Linked DNA regions of Homo sapiens. The protein of the gene in region 1 interacts with the protein of each later gene in a pairwise test. Each region holds a gene or a part of one and is shown in the gene's direction. Other genes may lie near its edges.

What was found.
Region 2: the proteins of UBE2K (region 1) and ZFTRAF1 interact in binary tests that used the Homo sapiens proteins (3 or more experiments, as listed by UniProt).
Region 3: the proteins of UBE2K (region 1) and TRIM5 interact in binary tests that used the Homo sapiens proteins (3 or more experiments, as listed by UniProt).

The regions. Positions count from the first base shown.
Region 1 is NC_000004.12:39,739,618-39,743,267, forward strand, and holds part of UBE2K (ubiquitin-conjugating enzyme E2 K), read left to right. Parts: intron 1-3,650. UniProt on the Homo sapiens protein: Accepts ubiquitin from the E1 complex and catalyzes its covalent attachment to other proteins. In vitro, in the presence or in the absence of BRCA1-BARD1 E3 ubiquitin-protein ligase complex, catalyzes the synthesis of 'Lys-48'-linked polyubiquitin chains.
Region 2 is NC_000008.11:144,452,831-144,456,480, reverse strand, and holds part of ZFTRAF1 (zinc finger TRAF-type-containing protein 1), read left to right. Parts: intron 1-3,020; coding exon 3,021-3,259; intron 3,260-3,650. Other genes in the region: TMEM276-ZFTRAF1 (uncharacterized protein LOC157542 isoform 1 precursor), read left to right, coding at 3,021-3,259.
Region 3 is NC_000011.10:5,674,980-5,678,629, reverse strand, and holds part of TRIM5 (tripartite motif-containing protein 5), read left to right. Parts: intron 1-195; coding exon 196-426; intron 427-3,650.

The DNA.
Region 1 (3,650 bases):
TGTATTTTTAGTAGAGGCGGGGTTTCACCATATTGGCCAGGCTTGTCTTGAACTCCTGACCTTGTGATCTGCCCACCTCAGCCTCCCAAAGTGCTGAGATTACAGGCGTGAGCCACCGCACCGCACCCAGCCCATTTTTTTCTTTCTTTATTGGAGAGATGGCATCTTGCCAAGTTACCGAGGCTGGTCTCAAACCCCTGGCCTAAAACAATCCTCTTGCCTTGGTGTCCCAAAGTCTTGGGATTCTAGGCATGAGCCATTGTGCCCAACCTTGTACCAATTCTTAAGTGATAAAATTTTATTTTTTGTTTTATAGTTCATACGAGCCATTTCTAGATATTTAATTTTTTATGCTGTTTATCGAGTGCTTCCTATCTGCTTGGCTTGGTCTGGCAGTTTTCATGGATGCTGTTTCATTTAGTCCTTTTTGCAATCATTAAATGTAGAGGAGACCTTTAGTTATCTTTAAAAAATCAGATGCTTGTCCTAATAGCAGATGTTTTTATATAATAATATACTAGCTTCTTCTTGAAGTCAGACCTTATAGTTATTCTTGAATTTTTTTTTAGGTTGTTTTGAAGTATTTTTGGAAGATAGTAGGGCAGTGACATTATTCTAGAGGTCTGTCAGCAAAGTTTTAAATTTTTTCATTGATTTTTATAAACAAGGCACTTCCTGAGCTAAATTAGATAGAAGCAATATTTAATAGGTAGATTAATTTTTTTAATTGGATAATGTATACTTATATACATTAAGATATATTAAGATACACTAATTAGCCGGGCGAGGTGGTGGGCGCCTGTGGTCCCAGCTACTCGGGAGGCTGAGGCAGGAGAATGGCGTGAACCCCGGGAGGCGGAGCCTTCAGTGAGCCCAGATCGCGCTGCTGCACTCCAGCCTGGGCGACAGCGAGACTCTGTCCCAAAAAGAAAAAAAAAAAGATACATTAAGATATATTCTTATGGCCGAGTGCGGTGGCTCACACCTGTAATCCCAGCACTTTGGGAGGCTGAGGCGGGCAGATCACGAGGTCAGGAGATCGAGACCGTCCTGGCTAACACGATGAAACCCCGTCTCTACTAAAAATACAAAAAAATTAGCCAGGCGTGATGGTGGGCGCCTGTAGTCCCAGCTACTTGGGAGGCTGAGGCAGGAGAATGGTGTGAACCCGGGAGGCGGAGCTTGCAGTGAGCCGAGATTGTGCCATTGCACTCCAGCCTGGGCAACAGAGCAAGACTCCGTCTCAAAAAAAAAAAAAAAAAAAAGATATATTCTTTATTGGTTAGAAACAAGTTTGGTCATTTTTTTTCTTTTCTTTTTCCCGATACCGAGAATGGGACCAAAAGTTTGGTCATTTAAAAGTGCTTATATCTGCCTGGGCGGGGTGGCTGATGCCTGTAATCCCAGCACTTTGGGAGGCTGAAGCAGGTGGATCACGAGGTCAGGAGTTCAAGACCAGCCTGACCAACGTGGTGAAACTCCATCTCTACTAAAAATACAAAAATTAGCTGGGTGTGGTGGCGTGCGCCTATAATCCCAGCTACTCAGGAGGCTGAGGCAGGAGAATCCCTTGAATCCATGAGACGGAGGTTGCAGTGAGCTGAGATCGCACCACTGCACTCCAGCCTGGGCGACAGAGGGAGACTGCATCTCAAAAAAAAAAAGTGCTTATTTCTGCTGCTGCTGCTGCTAAATGAATATTTTGATAAGATTAGATTTAATATGCTTTTTATATATTTGAGGTAGAGTAACTTGAATTCTGTTATTTTATATAAAACTATTGAGAGAAGTTCATTTTGTTAAGGAAAACACCATTCAAGGACATAAACTTTAATGCTTTTTCTTTTAAATGTGACGATAGGTTAAATGTTTATTGCAAGGATGTTGCAGTTTTTTGAGTTTTTAAAAATCTAAACTTAAATGCTAAAGCAAAAGTTTACATGTGGAATGTTAAGCAATTTATAACCATTATTAAGTAATGAGGCAGCTGTTTTTGTAGTATTTAAAGAATCAGATTGTGAAGTAGAGTACTCACGGGAAAATGCCATATTGTGGATGTTACTTAACTCAATTTTCTTCACTTCTTTTGCCTTAATAATTCAATGACAAAGGAACAGTTTAGTTCTTGAGCTTTTCTTCCTAAAATTTCTTTTAGGTTTATGGAATCATTGTTGACAGCTTAAAAATTCTCATTCCTTCCTCATCTCCTCTTTGGGTTAAGTTAAATTTAAAGATTGTTAATTTTTAATATTAAAAGCTATTCTTCAAGAAGTTAATGTTTTAAAGTAAAAACTATTATAATATGAATAATATAGTTATCATAAGGATTCCTTAGTTGTATTACCCTGATCAAATAATGCTATGATTAATGCTAAGTGGTCATATATTGAAAGTTGTCAGAGCGTGTAACATAAGGGATAGAAATAAGATTTTAGAGACTCTCGAGTCCAGCATTATTTATATAATATCTGTGGGCCCTCACACTGCTCCTAAGAGATTATTTTGGCCATTAACAAAGAACTTTGTATGATGGGTTATAGAGATGGTTTAATCTGGAGTTTAATCAGAAAAAAAAAATTCTTAGGAAGGAAAAAGAAAAGCCTATGTAGTGCTGAAGCCAAATTTATTATAACTATATTTGAAGCTGGCATTTCTAATTCTGGGTATAGACAGTTATTGTCACAAAATTTCTTCAGGTACCCTTCTCTTACCTGTCAGTTTTTTTTTTCTTTCCACTACTTTTCTTTAAATTTCATTATTGTTATATGTTCTGTGATTCAGGCATTTAGTTCAACTCATGCATGAATCACTATGGGATTCTATTAAAAAGAACTAGCCACGAGGCATAACGGCTCATGCCTGTAATCCCATTACTTTGGGAGGCTGAGGCGGGTAGATTATTTGAGGTCAGGAGTTTGAGACCAGCTTAGCCAGCATGCTGAGACCCTGTCTCTACTTAAAAAAAAATTAAAAAATTAGCCAGGCATGGTGGCGCGCACCTGTAGTCCCAGCTACCCAGGAGGCTGAGGTAGGAGAATTGCTGGAACTGGGAGGTGAAGGTTGCAGTCAGCCGAGATCGCACCATTGCACTCCAGTCTGGGCAACAGAGTGAGAATCCGCCTCAAATAAAAAGTAGCCAGAAGAGAGGCCAGGCGCAATGGCTTATGCCTGTAATCCCAGCACTTTGGGAGGCTGAGGCAGGCGGATCACCTGAGGCCAGAAGTTCAAGCCCAGCCTGACCAACATGGTGAAACCTCATCTCTACTAAAAATACAAAAATTAGCTGGGCATTGTGGTGGGCACCTGTAAACCCAGTTACTCAGGAGACTGAGGCACAAGATTTGCTGGAACCTGAAAGGTGGAGGTTGCAGTGAGCCAAGATTGTGCCTCTGCACTCCAGCCTGGGCAACAGAACGACCCTGTCTCAGGAAAAAAAAAAAAAGAGAAGGATTCGAAACAAAAAGGGCTTGAAGAAAATAGTACCACTTTTATTTTTTCCTCAGATTCATAGTCATCCATCCATTCATAACAATGGAGGAGTGAGGAGATACATTTGAGAGAGTCTAGAATATACTGAAGAAAGTCTCTTGTTTGACTTTTTGAAGAGCTGAGTGTATAGAATTTTGAAGATAATGTTCCTAGCACACAGT
Region 2 (3,650 bases), on another chromosome or scaffold:
CGCCATCCCCTGGACTGTGCGGCGCCCTCCAGGGCCCAGCTTCTGTTGGGTGTTGGGCACAAGTCAGAATCAAGTGCATCTGGCCAGATGCTGCCAGGGCCAAGGATGCAGCTGCCTGTGGCCTGGCCTTGGTGTAGAGCCAGAGTCTTGCGCAGGGGCTGAGGGGACCCAGATGGTGGGGAGGCTCCGGAGCATGTGACCAGGGACCGTCCTGCTGTGGACAGACCTCCTGGGCTGAGTGTTGGTCGGGACCGGGCCATGCACCTAGAGATGTCCTTTGACCAGTGGGGAGGGTCTGGGGGTGAGTGTGGCTGTGTCCCTTGGCTACTGGGCCAGTGTAGTCCAGGGCACTCTAGGGACTCCCTGTGTTCTGACTTGAATGGAGCTATTGGGGCTGAAGGGGCAATGGCCCTGTGTCTCCTCGGAGCTTGCAGGTCCTCTTGGAGGCCCAGAGAGAGCCAGAGGAGGGCAGGGTCACTGCTGCCTCCTCATGGTATGGAATTGACTGAGCCCATGCTGGGATCTGGAGGCCCCAAAGGAATGAGGCCTGTGGCCAGGGGCCGGCCCAGGAGCTGGGGTGGCTTTCGGGGGAGAGGCCCGCAGTGCTGGGAGGTAAGTGGTGATGTGCTTGGCAGCCTCAGTGCTCCCTTAGGAGGGTCTAGGACCCCACCTCGAATCTTCCTGGGCTATGCAGAGCCAGGAAGAGAGGCCAGGTGGCCTTGGTGGGTGGCATTAGATGCTCCAGCCCTGCCTGGAACTCCCTTGGGGGTCGGGCCACAGCCAAGAAGAGTGCTGTTTTGCCTGTGCTAAGGCCACTGTACGTGCAGAGCTGGACCCAGAACCTCGTCCAAGGCCCCCGGCAGTCTCACCAGGAGGTGTTTAGAGCTGGCCACGTGGAGTGGCATACCTCCGGGGGGCGGGGGGCTGTGAGAGGACAGTGGTGTGGGCCCTTGGTCTGTGCCTCCCACAGGACAGCTGCTTCAATAGCATCTGTGCCCCCTCCTGCCTGTAGTCCACCCACCACTGACCCCTGGACTTGGCTGGCGGATTTTCACACCTTCTCCTGGGGGCAGGTCTCAGCTTGTCCCCAACCCAGTCAGAGCCAGTCTCACTCCCTGCCTCAGGCAACTGTGTATGTTTTAATTTTTATTTATTTATGTATTCATGAGATAGAGTCTCACTCTGTCTCCCAGGCTGGAGTGTAGTGGCACCATTTCGGCTCACTGCAACCTCCGCCTCCCGGGTTCGAGCCATTCTCCTGCCTCAGCCTCCTGAGAAGCTGAGATTACAGGCGCTCGCCACCATGCATGGCTAATTTTTGTATTTTTAGTAGAGATGGGGTTTCACCATGTTGGCCAGGCTGGTCATGAACTCCTAACCTCAGGTGACCTGCCTGCCTCGGCCTTCCAAAGTGCTGGGATTACAGGCATGAGCCACCGCCTGTAATTTTAATTTTTAACCAAACTGAGAACTTGAGGATTGAATGCAGGTAACGGGTGGTGTTCATGTGGATGTGGATTCCATGAAAGAGGGCTTTGTCCTCACTGTCGGTTCTCCACATGTAGGTCCTTTGACTCAGCAGGCCTTAGGCCTAGTCCACAGGTGCTGAGTGAACAGCCCCAGCGTCTGACAGCTCCTTAGCTTGGGGTGCACAGGCAGCTGAAGCAGTAGGATGGCAGCTCAGACTTCCCAGGGCCCCACGTGTGCAGGGCTGGCCTCCCAGCACCACCAGGCAGGGCCGGCCTCCCAGCGCCACCAGGCAGGGCCCTGTGAGTGTCCCCTCCCTGACACACACCTTGTAGAGAGGCTGGGCCTGGGCAGGCTGCTCTGCTGCACCACATCCCATTCTCAAGAGGGTCCCAGGTCCCAAAGGAAGCCTGTAGCCCAGTGGCTTTCTGGAGGTTTGCATGGCTGGCAAGCCTGGGCCGGCTGCTGGAGAGGCATCAGGACAGGAGCAACTCTGCTGACTGCTCCCCTCAGCGAGCTCTAAGAGTCTTTGGGTGGGAGGCACATCACATCCCTGTCACTCCTGGCTGGCCCTGGAATGCCTCAGCCCACACACCCCACTCCAGCCAGGGCTGTGGGAACTGTGTCTGCTCAGGTACAAAAGGCTTTGTTTGTTCTTGGACCTCTTGGTTCTGGTCTGGGCTTCCCACCTCCCATGCTGTGAGCCCCCACGGGCTGGGACCGCAGCTTGCCATGTGTCTCTCAGTGGCACCAAGTGGACGCTCGAGGCTTATGTTGAGGGAGTGAGAGCCAGGATAGGCCACTGGGCGTGCTGGGAGCCCACACAGGCAGGGAGCCCAGCGGGAGGTGCCCTGCTCCTGCCAGCCCCGGTTACCCCAGCAGGCTCGGCACCCACTCAGAGCCCCCATTTCTGCTCCCCAGGCACTCCCTGTGTGCCTACCTGCCCTTGTCCTTGTCCTGGGCCAGCTTGGCTCCTGCCTCCCAGCTCTGAGGAGGTCTCTGCAGGTAGCCAACCTCCCTGGACGAGGGGGCAGCTGCCTCCTCTCACCTGGGCTCACCCTGAGCCAAGTCCTCTCAACCCAGGATAAATGGCCTTTCTGAAGGCCCAGAGAGCATGCCTGCCCCAGTGTGGGAGCTGCATCCGCTCCCCACCTGACAGTGATGGCCAAGAGCCCAGTGTTCCTGGAGGGCTCCCAAACTCTGGACCTGTAGGGGGGTCAGGGCAGTCGCTGGTCCCTAAGGGAAAAGCGTGACCCTCGGCCCCAGGTGGCTGAACCCGTCACTGCCAGGGCGAGCTGTCACCTCTGTGAGCTGATGAGGCCTTGCTTTTAGGACCTCTAATCTCTGCAAGAACCCAAGCTGGCTCTGCCTGTTTCTCCTGAGCAGCTCGCAGTGTTCACCACACTCCAGCACGACTCGGGACAGGCACGTGCGCCCCTCTGCACCAGCTGGAGTCCCTCAGGACACCTGGCTGGAGCTGATGGGCATGGGCGGGTGTGTGCGAGCATGAGCCCGCAGGTCTGTGAGCTTCGTCTCCCTTTCCTTCTTCGCAGTGTACTAATGGTCACTTGATGTGCGCTGGCTGTTTTATCCACCTACTAGCAGATGCCCGGCTGAAGGAGGAGCAGGCCACGTGCCCCAATTGTCGTTGTGAGATCAGTAAGAGCCTCTGCTGCCGGAACCTGGCCGTGGAGAAAGCCGTGAGCGAGCTGCCTTCAGAGTGTGGCTTCTGCCTGCGCCAGTTTCCCCGCTCCCTCCTGGAGAGGCACCAGAAAGAGGAATGCCAGGACAGGTAACTGAGGGTCAGGGGCTTAGCCTTACAGGCGGGGCCCAGGACTGCTGGGAGCCCACCCTGGTGCAGCAGGGCCCTGTGCAGGGTGGTCTGGCTGTCTCTGCTGTCTGGGCCTTGGGGACCACCTGTGTAGCCCAGTGACGGCCCTGTGGGAGGGTGCCTGCACAGGATGGGGACAGGTGGGTTTTGCACCCAGTTGTTATCCGGACATGAGCCTAGCCTTCCAGTGCTCTTTGTGGCTGTGGGGGAGCCCCTTGAAGGGCCCAGGACAGCGTGTCCAACGCAGGACCTCAGGGAGCTTGGTGTGAGGGTACACTGCCCATGGCTACCCATCCAGTGGAGGCAGCCACCAAGTCTCCTGCAGTGAGGCTGTGCAGGACCACCACTGCCA
Region 3 (3,650 bases), on another chromosome or scaffold:
ATATACCCATTCAAGGTCATTGTTTTAAAATGTCATGAAGGAAAAGAAATAGGAAAAGGCAGCTTTCCTAAGACCTACTCTCCTGCTACTATGTCCCCTCCTTGTGAGAACTCCCCAAAAGAAACAGCTCCTTTTCTGGCTAACAGCCTCTGCCTGGTAGACTGAGTGCCCCTTTCTCTTCTCTTATCTCTGAAGACTCAAATACAGTATGACAAAACCAACGTCTTGGCAGATTTTGAGCAACTGAGAGACATCCTGGACTGGGAGGAGAGCAATGAGCTGCAAAACCTGGAGAAGGAGGAGGAAGACATTCTGAAAAGCCTTACGAACTCTGAAACTGAGATGGTGCAGCAGACCCAGTCCCTGAGAGAGCTCATCTCAGATCTGGAGCATCGGCTGCAGGGGTCAGTGATGGAGCTGCTTCAGGTAAAAAGTGGAAAGAAGCCTGAGCACTGAGATTAAAGAAAAGTGAAGGCTATTTCCTTCTCTGCGTTGCTGTGCTTTTTCTAATATTAACAATGTTCTCTGCAGGACCGCTTTTCTGAATCAATTGCTGAAGTTATAAGAATAATTGAATGTAGAAGTAGCAAGAGATAATCCCATTTTTATTAATTTATCCAGAGCAGTAGAAAAATTTGACGTAGTGGAGATGATCAATTAGCTCTAGTCATGTTTGATAGGTTCCTATTCTCTGTATTCTAGTGTTGAGACTTACCAGTGCAGCTTTTCATTGCTCAGCTTAGCCACTGGCAAACAAATACACGTCAAAATACAAGATGCTTTTTATTTTTTTCCTTCATGGAATTAATTGAGACTTTTTCCTTTTTTTTTAATTTTCTGAAAAGAATTAAATAACTGCTATCATTTCTTCTTTATATGCTCAATAGAATTCACTAGTAAAGGCTGGGCGCGGTGGCTCACGCCTGTAATCCCAGCACTTTGGGAGGCCCAGGAGGGCCAGTCATGAGGTCAGGAGGCCCAGGCGGGCCAGTCATGAGGTCAGGCGATTGAGACCATCCTGGCTAACACGGTGAAACCCCGTCTCTACTAAAAATACAAAAAATTCTAGATCCCTGAGGAATCGCCACACTGACTTCCACAATGGTTGAACTAGTTTACAGTCCCACCAACAGTGTAAAAGTGTTCCTATTTCTCCACATCCTCTCCAGCACCTGTTGTTTCCAGACTTTTTAATGATTGCCATTCTAACTGGTGTGAGATGGTATCTCATTGTGGTTTTGATTTGCATTTCTCTGATGGCCAGTGATGATGAGCATTTTTTCATGTGCTTTTTGGCTGCATAAATGTCTTCTTTTGAGAAGTGTCTGTTCATGTCCTTCGCCCACTTTTTGATGGGGTTGTTTGTTTTTTTCTTGTAAATTTGTTTGAGTTCATTGTAGATTCCGGATATTAGCCCTTTGTCAGATGAGTGGGTTGTGAAAATTTTCTCCCATTTTGTAGGTTGCCTGTTCACTTTGATGGTAGTTTCTTTTGCTGTGCAGAAGCTCTTTAGTTTAATTAGATCCCATTTGTCAATTTTGTCTTTTGTTGCCATTGCTTTTGGTGTTTTAGACATGAAGTCCTTGTCCATGCCTATGTCCTGAATGGTACTGCCTAGGTTTTCTTCTAGGGTTTTTGTGGTTTTAGGTCTAACGTTTAAGTCTTTAATCCATCTTGAATTGATTTTTGTATAAGGTGTAAGGAAGGGATCCAGTTTCAGCTTTCTACATATGGCTAGCCAGTTTTCCCAGCACCATTTATTAAATAGGGAATCCTTTCCCCATTGCTTGTTTTTCTCAGGTTTGTCAAAGATCAGATAGTTGTAGATATGCGTCGTTATTTCTGAGGGCTCTGTTCTGTTCCATTGATCTATATCTCTGTTTTGGTACCAGTACCATGCTGTTTTGGTTACTGTAGCCTTGTAGTATAGTTTGAAGTCAGGTAGTGTGATGCCTCCAGCTTTGTTCTTTTGGCTTAGGATTGCCTTGGTGATGCGGGCTCTTTTTTGGTTCCATATGAACTTTAAAGTAGTTTTTTCCAATTCTGTGAAGTCATTGTTAGCTTGATGGGGATGGCATTGAATCTGTAAATTACCTTGGGCAGTATGGCCATTTTCACGATATTGATTCTTCCTACCCATGAGCATGGAATGTTCTTCCATTTGTTTGTATCCTCTTTTATTTCCTTGAGTAGTGGTTTGTAGTTCTCCTTGAAGAAGTCCTTCACGTCCCTTGTAAGTTGGATTCCTAGGTATTTTATTCTCTTTGAAGCAATTGTGAATGGGAGTTCACTCATGATTTGGCTCTCTGTTTGTCTGTTGTTGGTGTATAAGAATGCTTGTGATTTTTGTACATTGATTTTGTATCCTGAGACTTTGCTGAAGTATACCATTTGACCCAGCCATCCCATTACTGGGTATATACCCAAAGGACTATAAATCATGCTGCTATAAAGACACATGCACACGTATGTTTATTGTGGCATTATTCACAATAGCAAAGACTTGGAACCAACCCAAATGTCCAACAATGATAGACTGGATTAAGAAAATGTGGCACGTATACACCATGGAATACTATGCAGCCATAAAAAATGATGAGTTCATGTCCTTTGTAGGGACATGGATGAAATTGGAAATCATCATTCTCAGTAAACTATCGCAAGAACAAAAAATCAAACACCGCATATTCTCACTCATAGGTGGGAATTGAACAATGAGATCACATGGACACAGGAAGGGGAATATCACACTCTGGGGACTATGGTGGGGTGGGGGGAGGGGGGAGGGATAGCACTGGGAGATATACCTAATGCTAGATGACGAGTTAGTGGGTGCAGCGCACCAGCATGGCACATGTATACATATGTAACTAACCTGCACAATGTGCACATGTACTCTAAAACTTAAAGTATAATAAAACAAAAACAAAAACAAAAAAAACACAACAGAAGAAAAAAAAAAAAAAAGAAATGCAAGAAAGCTAGCACCCCCAGGGGCATCCTTCAACCAATGGGGTTGGGAGTTGATGGAGAAATGCCTCAGCTCTCAGTGTTTCGGGCAGAGATTCTGGGGCATTCCCAGGAGGTTTGGTGGGATCATGATCCCATAATGCCCAGAAACAACCCCAACAGCTTACTCATACATTGGCTTCTCCTCCTCCCTGTCTTACCTCCCTGCTCCCTCATTCCTGCTTCCTGGGGTCAGGTAAATCACCTGGACCCAGGTCCTTGTCTCAGGCTCTACGTTCAGTGTTTCTCATGCTGTATTCCTCGGAACCCCAGGGCACCTTAGGATGTGTCTACCCCTCTCTCACCTGCATTTGATTTAATGCTCTGTTGTCATCATCTTGAAATGTTTAATAAATTTTGAACAAGGGGCCGCATATTTTCATTTTGCATTGTACCCCACAAATGAAAAAAAATAATACAAAAAATTAGCCAGGCGTGGTGGCGGGCACCTGTAATCCCAGCTACTTGGGAGGCTGAGGCAGGAGAATAGTGTGAACCCGGGAGGCGGAGCTTGCAGTGAGCCAAGACTGCACCACTGCACTCCAGCCTGGGCAACAGTGCGAGACTCCATCTCAAAAAAAAAAGAAAACTGCTCTTATCCCAATTTTCAAGAATACAATACATTGTTAACTATAATTGCC